Linked DNA regions of Homo sapiens: region 1 is linked to region 2. Evidence: fine-mapped expression QTL. Tissue or cell type: cerebellar hemisphere. Region 2 holds a variant in brackets; the other region holds the start of a gene. All regions are shown on one strand. Distances are between the middles of the regions.

Region 1 (7,858 bases), 40 kb before region 2:
ACAAATTTAAAAGAATAATTAGCTTGGCATGTTGGCATGTACCTGTAGTCCCAGCTACTTGGGAGGCTGAGGTGGGAGGATCACTTGAGCCTGGGAATTTGAAGATATGGTGAGCTATGATCGTGCCACTGCACTCTAGCCTAGGTGACAGACAGACCCTATCTCAAAATAAATAAATAAAGTGGAAATTTTGTTTGTTTGTTTTGAGACAAAGTCTCACTCTGTTGCCCAGGCTGGAGTGCAGTAGCGTGATCTCGGCTCACTGCAACCTCCTCCTAGGTCCAAGCGATTCTCCTGCCTCACTCTCCCAAGTAGCTGGGATTACAGGCGCCCTCACCACGCCCAGCTAATTATAGTATTTTTTAGTAGAGATGGGGTTTCACCACGTTGGCCAGACTGGTCTTGAACTCCTGACCTCAGGTGATCTGCCCACCTCGGCCTCCCAAAGTGCTGGGATTACAGGCGTGAGCCACCACGCCCAGCCTGAACATTTTTATTTTAATTTTTAAAATTATTTTTAGAGATGGGGTCCTGTTCTGTTGCCCAGGCTGGAGTACAGTGACACGATCATAGCTCACTGCAGCCTCAAACTCTTGGGCTCGAGAGATCCTCTTGCCTCAGCCTCCCGAATAGCTGGGAATACAGACAAGCACCACCACACCTGGTTAGTTTCTTATTTTATTTTTTGTAGAGATGAGGTCTTGCTTGAACTCCTGGGCTCAAGTGATTCTCCTCCCTCAGCCTCCTGAAGTGCTAGGATTACATGTGAATCACCACACCCTGCCCACTTTCTTAGAACTTCAGAACACCCCTTTTCTCTTAACAAATGACTTTACTTCCTACTTGACAAAGAATACAGAAGACATCAAAGGAAATACTCTCATTTTCCAGAAAGCAAATATACAAACCTATGCGTATCAACATCTATCTTCTTTCTGCTCTAATTAGAGGTCAGTTCATTCTGCTGTCTAAGTCCTTCCCCTCTGGTTGTGCTTTGGAGCTGTTCTCACTCTATATACTTTTCTTAGGCAAACTCATCTGCCTGTATTTCAGTATCCACCTAGAAGTAGATGACTTCAATATTTATATATTTTAGAATTCCTTAAGTTTGGGACCCAAATATCCCATTACCTACCTGAACAGCAACTAGATATTTCAAACGCACCTCAAATTCAACATGTGTAAGGCTGAGCGCAGTGGCTCACGCCTGTAATCCCAGCACTTTCAGAGGCCGGGGTGGGCAGATCGCTTGAGCTCATGAGTTTGAGACCAGCCTGGGCAACACAGTGAAACCCAAATTCTACAAAAAATACAAAAAATCAGGTGGGCACGGCTGCGTGCACCTGTAGTCCCAGCTACTCAGGAGGCTGAGGTGGGCAGATCACTTGAGCCCAGGAGGTGGAGGCTGCAGTGAGCCGAGATCGTGCCACTGAACTCCAGCCTGAGTGACAGAGCCAGAACCTTGTTTCAAAAAAAGAAAAGAAAAAAAAATTCAACAAGTTTAAAACTGAACTTGGCCGCGCACAGTGGCTCATGCCTGTAATGCCAACACTGTGAAAGGTGAAGGTGGGAGGATCACTTGAACCGAATAGTTCAAGATCAATCTGGGCAACAGAGTGAGACCCTGTCTCTACAAAAGATACAAAAATTAGATGGGTGTAGTGGCATGTGCCTGTAGGGGGTCCCAGCCATTCAGGAGGCTGAGGTGGGAGGATCACCTGAGCCCAGGAGGTTGAGGTTGTAGTGAGCCAAGGTCATGCCACTGGACTTCAGCCTGGGGGACAGAGCAAGACCCTGTCTCTAAAAAATAAAAAGATAAATAAAAATAAATATATAATTAAAAAAAAAACTCATTCTGAGCATTGCTTTGTAGTAAAAAAACAAAAACTGAATTCACGATCATTCCCCTGACAACCCCCCGCCCGTCCCTTGGCCAAAGTGATTATCTTCCAGGGCCCTTGGTCAGGGAATAGTGTCATTATTCCTTCAGTTATGCAGCTGAAAATCTTGACACTTCTACCTCCCATCCAACCCACCATCAAGCCCTGTCAACTTTACCTCTTAAACATGTTTTCTTAATGCCCCTTTTTTACTCTCTCTGTCTCCTTCTTTCTCTTCCTCTCTCTCTCTCCCTGCCACCCTTTTTCAAGCTCCAGCAGTTCTTGCCTGGAGTATTGCAACATCCAACTGTTCTGCCCTAATCCACTCTAGCAATCCCCGCTATAGAGGGACCTTTTAAAATGCAAATCTGACCTGGATTCACTTCTGCTTAAAGCTTATGACTGGTTTCCTTTAATTCTTGGATAAGCACAAAACTTCTCGGTATGGCTAAGGCTCTGCTTCCTCCGGCTCCAGCTTCAACTCACACCACACTCCATTCAGGTCGATTAGCTCAAACCCCTCAGATATTTCTCAGCCTTTGTACTCACTGTGCTTCCTCCTGCCATCCAGCCTTTGCACGCCTGATTCCCTCTGCTTAGAGGAGTTCCCTCCTTTCTTTGTAAAAGGCATCAGATCTCACACCAAGCTCTCATTACAAAAGCCTTTCCTGTCCTACCTCTCAAGATCTCGTTATTGTAAATACTCAAAGTATCATTAACCTCTAATGTTTCAATTTACAGCAATAATTCAACATTTGTTTGTTTTGGAGACGGTGTCTCCCTCTGTCGCCCAGGCTGGAGTGCAGTGGTGTGATCATGGCTTACCATAGCCTCCACCTCTCGGCCTCAGGTGATCCTTCCACCTCAGCCTCCAGAGTAGCTGGGACTACAGGCACGCACCACCACGCCCGGCTAATTTTTAGTAGAGAAGCGGTTTCGCTATGTTGCCAGGCTGGTCTCGAACTCGTGACCTCAAGTGATCCACCCGCCTCGGCCTCCTAAAGTGCTGGGATTACAGGCGTGAGCCACTATGCCCAGCCCACATTTGTTTATTTGATTAAAATGTCTGTGCCCCTCTTCCAGGATTGGGCTGTGAGCCCAGGGGAAGGAAAGAACCTTGTCTGCCATTGTATCTTCAGGGCCTAGCGGTGCCTGGCGCACAGCAGTTGCTCAACTAGACTGGTTGACTAAGTCAATAAATAAAGCACTACGGTCTATTATATCCGAAGGCTTGGCTTCGGGAGGGGCAAAAGACAGGTTTCGCGCTGAGGTAGGGTTCATGGTGCCGACATTTTTTTTCAAGATGGAAGAAAGCGGAGATAATACGCAGCCCTCAAAGGAACTTAGTCTAATCGGGGGGAGCAGACGATCGTTCACTGTGGGAAAATGGGGTACGATTTCCCCCAGTGAGGAAATCAACTAAAGCCGAGCTTTGAAAAGGGGAGCAGAGGAGCCTGAGGGGAAGCGGGGGCGTGTCGCCTGGCGTGACCAGCGCGGCAGGAAAAGCGGGCCCAGGGACCCGGGCCTGTCACGCCGCTTCCGCGCGTCCCCAAACTCTCCCTCGGCTCGCCCACCCACGCGGCGGGGACCCCTCCGGCCCCTCCCCGGCCCCACGGCCACTTCTTCCCCCACAAGCCGGCCTGCGGTCCGCCTTACCAGCCCGGGCCGGACGGGGCCGCAGCTCCTGGCAGACCGCACAGCCTTCGAGCCCGGAATGCCGAGACAAGGCCGGCGCCGATTGGCGACGTTCCGTCACGTGACCTTAACGCTCCGCCGGCGCCAATTTCAAACAGCGGAACAAACTGAAAGCTCCGGTGCCAGACCCCACCCCCGGCCCCGGCCCGGGACCCCCTCCCCTCCCGGGATCCCCCGGGGTTCCCACCCCGCCCGCACCGCCGGGGACCCGGCCGGTCCGGCGCGAGCCCCCGTCCGGGGCCCTGGCTCGGCCCCCAGGTTGGAGGAGCCCGGAGCCCGCCTTCGGAGCTACGGCCTAACGGCGGCGGCGACTGCAGTCTGGAGGTGAGCGGGATGCAGCAATGGAGTCCCAGGCCTGGCCTGGGCACAGGCGGGGAGCAAGGCCTCCGGGCGCGGAGGTCAGGGCGTCTAGCAGCAGGGCACGGGCCACGAGTGGAGATTTGGGTCACACGGGAAGAATCTGAGCCAGGGTGCAAGTTTTTTCTGCGTCCACCTCCTGGCCGTGGCCTTCTCACTGCTTAAAGCGCCCCTTGGCCTTCCCTGGAAGTCTGACCTCCGCACCCTGCCCGCGGCCTCGGGAGGGCTGGGGTGGCCTACCTTCTTAGGCCGACTGTGGCTGAGATGAAGACTGAGATTGTACTACATTGAGTCAAAGACCAACCTGCATACACACTCCCCTGCTCCCAGGCTGTCTCACCACTAGGCAACACCGCCTCCATCTTACTTACCCTTTTGCAGGGCCCTTTTCCTGGTTCTTGAGAATGTAGCAAGATTTCCCCGCTCAGGATGGGGATGGGTCGGAGGAGCCACTCTGGAAGTTTCCCGGGCAAGAAAGTGTTGGCAATAATAATAACGGGCTGGTCAGGAAGTAGAAGAGAAAATTAAGACTTAGATATCCTGTGGAAAAAGAGGAATAATATCTACTGATTGATGCGGGGAGAGAGGGAAGCCTGGAAAGATCGGAGGTGAAAGTAAAACTGAGATTTGAAGGTAGAGGTGTGGAGGGCCTGTGAACTCTATGCAGATGACAAATGTCAAAAAAGTGCAGTTGCTTTTCAGGGAGAGAATAAGTGTCCTAAAAAAGAGACAGCCAATTCCTCTGTCTTCCAAAGTTCCGTGAAATAGAATTACACAATTTTGCTTAATGGTAGAATATTCCATGTATCTATTAAAATCAACAAAAGGCCGGGCGCAGTGGCTCACGCCTGTAATCCCAGCACTTTGGGAGGCCGAGGCGGGTGGATCACCTGAGGAGTTCAAGACCAGCCTGGCAAACATGGTGAAACCCTGTTTCTACTAAAAAAAAAAAAAAAAAATTAGCTGGGCATGGTGGTGCATGCCTGTAATTGCAGCTACTCGGGAGGCTGAGGCAGGAGAATCGCTTGAACCCGGGAGGCCGAGGTTGCAGTGAGCTGAGATTGCGCCATTGCACTCCAGCCTGGGTGACAAGAGCGAAGCTCCGTCTCAAAAAAAAAAAAAAAATTAAAAAAAATCAACAAAAGACTTAAAAAAAAAAGACTACACTGTTAGCATTTCAGAACCACCTTAGTGTAATGATGATAGCTCATTGTGGTACTAAGAAGACAGGGGTTATAGTCTTATTTCTGGAAAAGAAATTAATAAAGTGGCATGCTTAGTTAAAATATATATAACCACATGCAAGTACTAAAATGCCACTGTATAAATACAATACAAATTGTAAAAGAAAACATGCTTTTTAAATTAGAGCAAGTATAATAGCCTGTGAAATAAATGTCACCCTCTAGAGTTGTTCAGTGCACAAGCTGCACAACTTTACATGGGCCTTCAGTAGAGGTTTCCATTTTATGTGAGGTTTTGTAAACTGGGAGATGATTTTTCCAGTAGTGTGGCAATAGTACAATCTGCCTTTCTTCCCTGATTCTGTGTGCACTGGTCCTATTTACAAAGTAATATAAAAATCAAAAGGCTTGGCCAGACGCGGTGGCTCACGCCTGTAATCCCAGCACTTTGGGAGGCCGAGGCGGGCAGATGACCTGAGGTCAGGAGTTTGAGACCAGCCTGAGCAACATGGTGAAACCCTGTCTCTACTAAAAATACAAAAACTAGCCGGGCGTGGTGGTGGGCACCTGTAATCCCAGCTACTCAGGAGGCTGAGACGTGGGACTCGCTTAAACCCAGGAGGCAGAGGTTGCAGTGAACTGAGATCGTGCCACTGCACTCCAGCCTGGGTGACAAAGTGAGACTCTGTCTCAAAAAAAAAAAAAAAAAAAAAATTAAAATCCTTTGTCTTGAATGGATTATGGGATCAGAGTTTCATCAGGACTCCTAATTACCATATGCTTTCCTATTCTAGCATCTTCCATTTCTGTCCATACAGTCATTGCAAGTGATCTATTTATATTATAGTAGGCAATTATAGAGATTTCCACATATTTGTAGCTATCCCATCCATTTCTGTAGCCAAATATTCTGAAGCTTCAAGGAGATCTTTGTCTTATCTCCAACCCAGTCCCATTTTTGCCCTTTGAATTGCTTCTGTCTGCTGTAATTTTAGCCTTCTTTTGTCAGTAAAGCTTATCTCCTTATTATCTGAGGTCTTTACAAAAGTCCATGGAATGTTTACCTGGGCCTTTAGGCTCATGTTCCTGGTCATATAAAGAGGAGCACCTTTCTCTAAAAGGACCTCTTCTCAGCCTAAACAATCTCTAACATCTTGCCACTATTTGCATTTTCCAGGGTCCACACTTGTGATTCTCAATGGAGAGTGAAAACGCAGATTCATAATGAAAACTAGCCCCCGTCGGCCACTGATTCTCAAAAGACGGAGGCTGCCCCTTCCTGTTCAAAATGCCCCAAGTGAAACATCAGAGGAGGAACCTAAGAGATCCCCTGCCCAACAGGAGTCTAATCAAGCAGAGGCCTCCAAGGAAGTGGCAGAGTCCAACTCTTGCAAGTTTCCAGCTGGGATCAAGATTATTAACCACCCCACCATGCCCAACACGCAAGTAGTGGCCATCCCCAACAATGCTAATATTCACAGCATCATCACAGCACTGACTGCCAAGGGAAAAGAGAGTGGCAGTAGTGGGCCCAACAAATTCATCCTCATCAGCTGTGGGGGAGCCCCAACTCAGCCTCCAGGACTCCGGCCTCAAACCCAAACCAGCTATGATGCCAAAAGGACAGAAGTGACCCTGGAGACCTTGGGACCAAAACCTGCAGCTAGGGATGTGAATCTTCCTAGACCACCTGGAGCCCTTTGCGAGCAGAAACGGGAGACCTGTGGTATGTGGTCTTCCAGGGAAAGGGGTGAGGGAGCCCAGCCTTTCCTCTGTAGTGGCAAGGTGTGTAGTCAGTCTTGATGCTTACAACAGTCAGGCTTCTGGCCGAGCACAGTGGCTCATCCCTGTAATCCCAGCACTTTGGGAGGCTGAGGCGGGCGGATCACTTGAGGTCAGCAGTTTGGACTAGCCTGGCCAACATGGTGAAACCCGTCTCTACTAAAAATATAAAAAAACTAGCCGAGCGTGGTGGCACACGTCTGTAGTCCCAGCTACTCTGGAGGCTGAGGCAGGAGAATCGCTGAACCTGGGAGGTGGAGGTTGCAGTGAGCTGAGATTATGCCACTGCACTCCAGCCTGGCCACAGAGGGAGACTCTGTCTCAAAAAAAAAAATAAAAATGAAAAAAGAAGGGGTCTCAAAAATAAATAAATGAAGAAGGGGTCTCACTATGTTGCCCAGGCTGGTCTCGGACTCCTGAGCTCAAGGGATCCAACCATATGGGCCTCCCAAGGTGCTGGGATTATAGGCATGAACGACAGCGCCTGACTTCATTTTCCTTCTTTTTTTTTTTTTTTTTTTTGAGATGGAGTCTTGCTCTGTTGCCCAAGCTGTAGTGCAGTGGTGCAATCTCAGCTCACTGCAATCTCCACCTTCTGGGTTCAAGTGATTCTCCTGCCTCAGCCTTCTGAGTAGCTGGGATTACAGGCACCCGCCACCACACCTGGCTAATTTTGGTATTTTTTAGTAGAGACAGGGGTTTGCCATGTTAGCCAGGTTGGTCTTGAACTCCTGACCTCAGGTGATTCGCCCACCTCGGCCTCCCAAAGTGCTGGGATTACAGGTGTGAGCCACTGCGCCTGGCCTCATTTTCCTTCTTGATAAAGGAGAAAACTGAAGCAAGAGGAGGAAAATGACTTTTTCTTTAGAGATGCGGTCTCGCACTGTCACCCAGGCTAGAGTGCAGTGGCGCAATCACGGCTCACTCTAGCCTCGAATGCCTGGACTCAAGCCATTCTCC
Region 2 (7,858 bases):
TCTCCATAGTGACCTATGTGTAAATGTCATCGCTTCTAAAAGAGCCACTCTGCCCAGCTCAGCTCCACCACTTTCTCTTCTTACCCTGCTTTTTTCTCTTTTTTCTACAAAAAAAAAAAATTGTATTTGGATTTTATTTAGAATTTTATTTATTTATTTTGAGACGGAGTCTTGCTCTGTCACCCAGACTGGAGGGCAGTGGCGTGATCTCAGCTCACTGAAAGCTCCGCCTCCCGGGTTCACGCCATTCTCCTGCCTCAGCCTCCCGAGTAGCTGGGACTACAGGCGCCCGCCACCTCGCCCGGCTAAGTTTTTGTATTTTTAGTAGAGATGGGGTTTCACCGTGTTAGCCAGGATGGTCTCAATCTCCTGACCTCGTGATCTGCCTGCCTCGGCCTCCCAAAGTGCTGGGATTACAGGCATGATATTTAGAATTATATTGAGTTTATGGACAAATTGGGGAAGAAATTAAATCCTTTTTTTTTTTTTTGAGACAGAGTCTCGCTCTGTCTCCCAGGCTGGGGTGCAGTGACGTGATCTCGGCTCACTTCAACTTGATCCACCTCCCGGTTTCAAGCGTTTCTCATGCCTCAATCTCCCGAGTAGCTGGGACTACAGGCATGAGCCACCACACCCAGCTAATTTTTTTTTGTATTTTTAGTAGAGACGGGGTTTCACCATGTTGGCCAGGCTGGTCTTGAACTGCTGGCTTCAGGTGATCCACCCACCTCGGCCTCCCAAAGTGCTGGAATTATAGGCGTGAGCCACTGCGCCCGGCCATCTTTATATTGAACCTTCCTACTCATGAACTTGGTAGATCTTGCCCTTTTTTTTTTTTTTTGGTTAGATTCAGGGGGCACATGTGCGGGTTTGTTAGAAGGGCACAGTGCATGGTGCTCAGGTCTGGGCTTCTCTTGATCCTGTCACTCAGAGAGTGACCACAGTACCCAACAGGAAGTTCTTCAGCCCTAGCTCCTCTTTCCTTCCTCGCTTTTGGAGTCTCCAGTGTCTGTTGTTCCCATCTTCGTGTCCATTTGTACTCATTGTTTAGCTCCCGCTTATAAGTGAAAACACGCAATATTTGGTTTCCTGTTTCTGTGTTAATTTGCTTAGGATAATGTCCTCCAACTGCATCCATGTTGCTGCAGAGGACATGATTTTGTTATTTTTTATGGCTCCATACTATTCCATGGTGTATTTTCTTCAGCACTTACCACCACCTGAGGTTATAAATTTAGTTGTTCATTATCTACCTGTTCCATTAGAATGTGAACTCCATGAAGGCAGGGACCTCATCTGGCTCTCCACTGTACACCCAGGGCCTAGCTCAGCGTCCAGTACATAGTAGGCGCTCAATAACTACTTTTTTCTGAATGAAAAAAAACTTCATTCATAGAAGAACCAATGCAGCGAAGGAGCCATATTTATCACTTTCATTTTTTCTCTCAGCATTTCTGAATTTAGATCCATTCACTTCAGAGAATAACAGACATTTTCCAAGTGTTTTGGACGAGAATACGCTCACTTCTTCTACTCCTAACGGTTCAGAATTGCTTAATCTTCCTGAATAGTTGGACGAAGTTTCTTCCCCCTCTGTCTCATTATTAGAGACCAATGGAGTTATTCCTTGTTGATTAATTATTTGGTTTTTTTTTGAGCCGGAGTTTCACCCTGTCACCCAGGCTGGAGTGCAGTGGCATGATCTCGGCTCACTGTAACCTCTGCCTTTCAGGTTCAAGTGATTCCCCCACTTCAGCATCTGAGTAGCTCGGATTACAGGCATGCGCCACTATGCCTGCCTAATTTTTGTATTTTTAGTAGAGACAGCGTTTCACTACATTGGTTAGGCTGGTCTCGAACTCCTGACCTCAAGTGATCCACCTGCCTCAGCCTCCCAAAGTGCTGGGATTACAGGCATGAGCCACTGTGCCCAGCTAAATTGTTTTTTTTTTTTAATTCTCTGTTAGGTAAAAAAGTTATGAGGGGAGGAGACTGAGCTGTCATGGGCAAGGCCGGGCCGCTCGCCTAGCCTCACAACACTCCCCACATTCTTCACTATCACAGCAAAGTGGTGTCTACAGTCCTGCAGAAAGGCCTCAGAGCTTTATATTGCTAGAACAATATATCCCACTCTTCTGGCAATCTGGGGGAAGGGCAGAGACTATGCCTTGTATTTACAAAGGAAGAAACCAAGAAACACAAAAAGGCAAGAGAGATTCTCCTTACTGCGGAGTCTGCCCCAAGATGGCAGTGAGACAGTACTTGCTTGGGTTACAGAACACAGGGGCCAACTCTCTCCCTACTCCACAGCTACATTCCAGAGAATGGCATTTTCGGAGCACAAGTGGTTTCCAGGGCCAGGCAACAAAGGACTTATCAGACTAACTGGAAGAGAGAAGCTGATGTCCCCAAACCCACTCCAAACTCCAAACTCCAAAGTCTCCATTCTATGCCCCAGGCACATTTACTCTTCCCTGGAGTGCAGTGTACAGACCTGAGCTCACTTGAGAGCCTGGGACAGCCCATCCATGTTGGCAGGCTGGCTCCCTAGAGCCAGCCATCTCATCCTTGTGAGTTGATAATTTAGCACAACTCCCCCAAAGGATGCATTAGTAAAGGACTCTTGAAGATGCTGAAGAATTTTCAAACCAAAGGAATGAATTGCTAAGAATAAAGTAAGTTGGAGGAGATGCTTTTCAGCTTGGGGCCTGCCCAGCATCACGCTGTGTGTCACTCAATAATCTATCAATTATAGATTATAGTTAATCCTGTTGAAATGACTACAGGAACCCAGCAAAACATGCCAGAGGATCCTCTTTGACCTCTATCCCAAGCAAACATATGGTGGTAATGGATGTCAAGACATGGGAGGGAGCTAGAAAGTTCCACTAAAGCTAAGTCTAAATGAAGCTCGGCTCTGGGTGGGGCAAATCTTGAGAAATGGCATCCTATTGCAGTTTGGTTTTCTTTCCGTGTTTATCATCTCTATCAGTATTCTCCTTTAGGCACAGCGTAAATTGAACAGACCTTGGGAGAGAGAACACAAGGACTGGACCACCTGCTCTGCTATATCATAACTGAATCTTGGGCATATTTTCTAAGAATTTTTTTCTTTTAGAGACAGTGTCTCGCTCTGTCACCCAGGTTGGAGTTCAGTGGTGCCATCATAGCTCACTGCAGCCTCGAATTTCTGGACTCAAGTGATCCTCCCACCTCAGCCTCCTGAGTAGTTGAGACTATAGGTACATGCCACCACACCTGGCTAATTTTTAATTTTGTTTTGTTTTTGTTTTTTGGGTTTTTTTTTTGAGACGGAGTTTCACTCTTGTTGCCCAGGCTGGAGTGCAATGGCACAATCTTGTCTCACTGCAACCTCCTCCTCCCGGCTTCAAGCAATTCTCCTGCCTCAGCCTCCCAAGTAGTTGGGATTACAGGCGTGTGCCACCATGCCCAGCTAATTTTTTTTTTGAGACGGAGTCTCTCTCTGTCGCCTAGGCTGGAGTGCAGTGGCGTGATCTCGGCTCACTGCAAGCTCCACCTCCCGGGTTCACGCCATTCTCCTGCCTCAGCCTCCTGAGTAGCTGGGACTACAGGCGCCTGCCACCGCGCCCGGCTAATTTTTTTGTATTTTTAGTAGAGACGGGGTTTCACTGTGTTAGCCAGGATGGTCTCGGTCTCCTGACCTCGTGATCCGCCTGCCTCGGCCTCCCAAAGTGCTGGGATTACAGGCGTGAGCCACCGCGCCCGGCCATGCCCAGCTAATTTTTTGCATTTTTAGTGGAGACAGCGTTTCACCATGTTGGCCAGGCTGGTCTCGAACTCCTGATCTCAGGTGATCCACCCGCCTCAGCCTCCCAAAGTGCTGGGATTACAGACGTGAACCACTGTGCTGGGTCCTAAGACTTAATGTACTAGTTTCCTGGGGATGCCATAACAAAGTATGTATCACAAGCTTGAGTGGCTAAAACAATAGAAATTTGTCATCTTACAGTTCTGGAAGCTGAAAGTACAACAGGAAGGTGTTGGCAGGGTTGGTTCCTTCTGACAGCTGTAAGGCAGGGTCTGTTCCACGCCTCTCCCCTGGCTTCTGGTGGTTTGCTGGTCCTCTTAGGTGTTCCTTGGCTTGCAGATGCATTATCCC[G/A]ACCTCAGCCTTCACGTGGCGTTCTCCCCATGTGCGTTTCTCTCTGCGTCCCACTTCCTCCTTTTAATAAGAGCGCAGTCATATGGGAGTAGGCTCATCCTAATGACCTCATCTTAACTTCACCATATCTGTAAAGGCCCTATCTCCAAATGAGGTCGCCTTCTGAGGTACTAGGGGTTAGGGGTACATTTGGGGGGTGAAGGAAACAATTCAACCCATAACACTTTCTTTCCCTCTAAATGGGGATTAGAATACAGTATTTCTTCATATAATTGCAGTGGTTGTGAAAGTGTCTCAAAGAGGCTTGGTTCCTAGAAGCTCAGCAGACATCTGGTTTGTCTGAAAGTACATGTGCCTTGGAGCTGTCTGAGTCAGACTGCACCCTTAGGGAGCAGGGCTCAGGTGGGGTAATCACCCTGTGAGCATCCAACACAGGTAAACAGGTGCTTGGCCAATGCGTTTCCCTGATGGTGAAGAGGAAAGGCTGGAGAGAAAAATCTGCTGATAAGCCAGGGCTAGAAAAAGTCTGATACCAAGTCCTGGAGAGGATGTGGAACCTCAGGAGCCCCTGTGTGCAGCTGTCTCAGTGTGCACTGGTAAAAACACTCTGGCAATATGCCAAAAAGGCAAAGCTGTATATGGGATGCCCCAGCAATTCCACTCCTAGGTGTAGGTGTATACTCTAGAGAAATGCCTACATAGGTGCCCCAGGAGATGTGTGCAAAAATATTCATAGCAGCATTGTTTGTTAGACCTAAAAATGAAAAATAACCTACATTTCCTCAATGTCATGCATGCATCTAATGGAATACTATGTTACACAGCAGGTGAAGTCAATTAACTAGAGCTGGGCATACCGTATGGATGAATCTCACTAACAAAAACTATTCAGCAAAAAAGAGCAGATTGCAGAAGAATAAATACAGTGAGTAGGACAAAACCAACGACATATTGCTTAGAATGCATATGTAAGTATTTGCATAAAGAATATAAAGAAGTCTGGGCCTGATAAACACCAATTTCAGCAGGCGGAAGTGGAAGTGCACAGGGAGCTTCAACAGCTTATTTTTTAAACTGGTGATGAGTGAAGAGTACTGGTTATCTTATTCTTTATAACTTCTGTATATTTGAAATGCAACATTTTTTAAAGAGCCAGGACTTGAGGAGAGTCATATAAAGGAGACTGAGATGCCAGGGACAATTTCTACTCGTGGGAAGATTCAGAGTTGTTCCTGTCATTCCCTGGAACCCAGAATCCAGAGTCAATTAGTTAAAGACTCTGACATCTGCTAGGCGGGAGGCAAGAGACCTAACAAGGTAAGGCTAGGGGGATGAGAGGAGGGAAGGACGCTCTCATGCTGCCCCTCTTTGATCTGAACCCAGTTACTGGCCTGCGCGCCAGCCCTGGGCTGCAGATAATGCCAGGAGAAAACAGCTGGGCAGTCCTGGGAAGCCTGGGAGGGATGCAGAGGAGGGCGGGGGCCACACACGCTGGGAGGTGCACTAAGGCTGCTGCCCCCACACAGTGACAAGCGCTTCCTCGCAAACCACCTGGCACGGGCACCCTGACAGTTTACAGCACTGTCTCTCACTCTCCTTCTCTCTCTCTCTCTCACACACACACACACACACACACACACACACATACGCCCCATCCACCGCCCGCTCTGACCAGGACCCCAGCGTTGGGGATGCGGCCAAGTCAGCCAGCTGTGGGCCCTGCCAACCCTCCCTCTCTTCTAGGACTGGGTTTTTCCAGCCGGAGTCTCACTCCCTCTACAGCAATCTCGGGAAATTGGAGACTGACGCGGCTGCTCCTGCATGTTATTTATTTTTCCTCTTTCCCTCCCGTGGAGACCCTCCTGTTGGAAAGAGAGCTGCAGCACGGGACAGAGACAGGCAGGAAGAAGCAGAGAGGACTCGGTGACGCCCCCACCGAGCAGCCCCTGGCCCACTCCTCCAGCAGGGGCCATGAGCACCAAGCAGGAGGCCAGGAGAGATGAGGGAGAAGCCAGGACGAGGGGGCAGGAGGCACAGCTTCGAGACCGAGCCCACCTGAGCCAGCAGCGCCGGCTCAAACAGGCCACCCAGTTCCTGCACAAGGACTCGGCCGACCTGCTCCCGCTGGACAGCCTCAAGAGGCTCGGCACCTCCAAGGACTTGGTGAGGCATCACCCCTCCCCTGCCAGCGTCCCCTGGCCTTTTCCTTCCACTTCCCAGATCCTGAGCAGGAGGCAGGACCAGAAAGTGCAGACCCTCAGCTTTCAGGTCCCGCTCCCTTGCTGAGATGGGGAGAGGTCATCCTGCCAACTCAAGGCTCTTCACCGGGGATGTTCCCATGGTTTGGTGGCTCTGAGGGTTCCTATTCTCTCATTGCTTGGCTTCCCTTTTTCCTCTAATGGCCCCAAACTTGAGGGTGGTGAGGAGCTAGGCTGTTTAGAAGTGGGGGCTTACAGGAACACAGGAACCCTCTAGAGTGGTCACTTACAACCAGGAGGGCCTGGAGGACTGGCCAGTTTAGGGTTGTGACTTCCTGCTTCCCCCGAACCACAGGTTCCCCAGACCAGGTCTGTCTATCCACTTGTCCTTTCTCCTCAGAATCAAAACATCGGGGGTCTCCATCCTTCCCAGGGCATCAGGGTTTTGTGTGGCTCTTGCCGGGGGCCCCTGGCCGCCTTGAGTGCTGCTCCCCCAACTCCTGAGTGGAATGGACCTTCCAGGCTCCTCTCCTCCCATCCCATGTCTGCAGCAGCTTTGGCCTCAGAGGAATGGGGCAGGGGAGTAACAGTGAGGATGTGAGTGGGCGGCGGAAAACTGCAGATTCAGGCATTCCCCTCTGAGAGGCAATGCTGACAAGCGGGGCTGCGCAGCCACTTCGCTTGGGATCAGATCCTGGCTCTGCCATTTACTAACTTGTGCAATTGACTTTACGTCTCTGTGCCTCAGTTTCTTCATCTGTTAAATGAGAATCAAATCAATCATAGGATTGTTGGGAGAGTTGTTAGAGCTAATATATTTAAAGCACTTAGAACAGTGCCTAATAGCAGGCACTATCTAAATGCTATTATTATTATTCCCCCAGCTATTACTCCATTTAGTCTGAGAAATATTCCTGGCCTCTGACCCGTGGAAGAGAGGAAATCCTTTGTAGAAAGGCTTGGGAGCACTCGGTTCCCTGTCCCCTCTCCTAGTCTGAGAAGAGGTACTCAACCAGGCCTGTACTGACAGGTTGGAAGCATGTCTGCAGGCCTGTGCTCCACCAACTGCTTCTCCCCGGGAACCTGAAGGCCAGTGCAGCACCTCGCCTTTCCCTACTTAGCTCCACCTTTCCAGACTCCTCTCAGCCTGGGTTGCCCCCACCAGGACCACAGCCCAGAGGTCTGGCAATTCCCTAGCTCCCAACGAGAAAAGGGATTGCACTGAGACTTAATTCAGGGAACTGCCAGGGGCTTATTCCTACTTGCAGTGGCAGCAAGCATAGCTGAAAAACAGGGATGGAGCAGGGAAGCGGGTTCTTCGGCTCTCAATGGCTGGAACCTACTGGGGACCATCCTACATGTGTTTGGCCCCAGGAGAAGGTGCTCTACTGACATTGCCATCCCGGAGTGGCAGGTCCCGCCTTCTAATGAGAAAGTCCCGGGCTTTTCACCTCTCCCCTCTGCCTAGGATATCCCCAATTGATCCCTAGCAGTTACCTCCTATGGCTCTGGGAGCAAA

Evidence for each region. PIP is the estimated chance that this variant, and not a neighbour inherited with it, causes the effect.
Region 1: FOXM1 starts here. The variant in region 2 is fine-mapped to the expression of FOXM1 in cerebellar hemisphere (GTEx, PIP above 0.99).

The regions. Positions count from the first base shown.
Region 1 is chr12:2,872,961-2,880,818 of GRCh38, reverse strand. FOXM1 (forkhead box M1) reads left to right here and starts at 3,645. Exons shown (of 9, transcript NM_021953.4): 1 at 3,645-3,899; 2 at 6,294-6,842. The coding sequence starts at 6,341. RHNO1 (RAD9-HUS1-RAD1 interacting nuclear orphan 1) reads right to left here and starts at 3,596. Exons shown (of 3, transcript NM_001252499.3): 1 at 3,537-3,596. RefSeq lists an enhancer at 803-1,756 and silencers at 3,340-3,779, 3,820-3,889.
Region 2 is chr12:2,833,088-2,840,945 of GRCh38, reverse strand. NRIP2 (nuclear receptor interacting protein 2) reads left to right here and starts at 5,911. Exons shown (of 6, transcript NM_031474.3): 1 at 5,911-6,304. The coding sequence starts at 5,963. It also overlaps a transcript of ITFG2 not described here. RefSeq lists enhancers at 5,141-5,684, 5,685-6,229, 6,230-6,774. The variant G/A (reference allele first, on the strand shown) is at 4,142.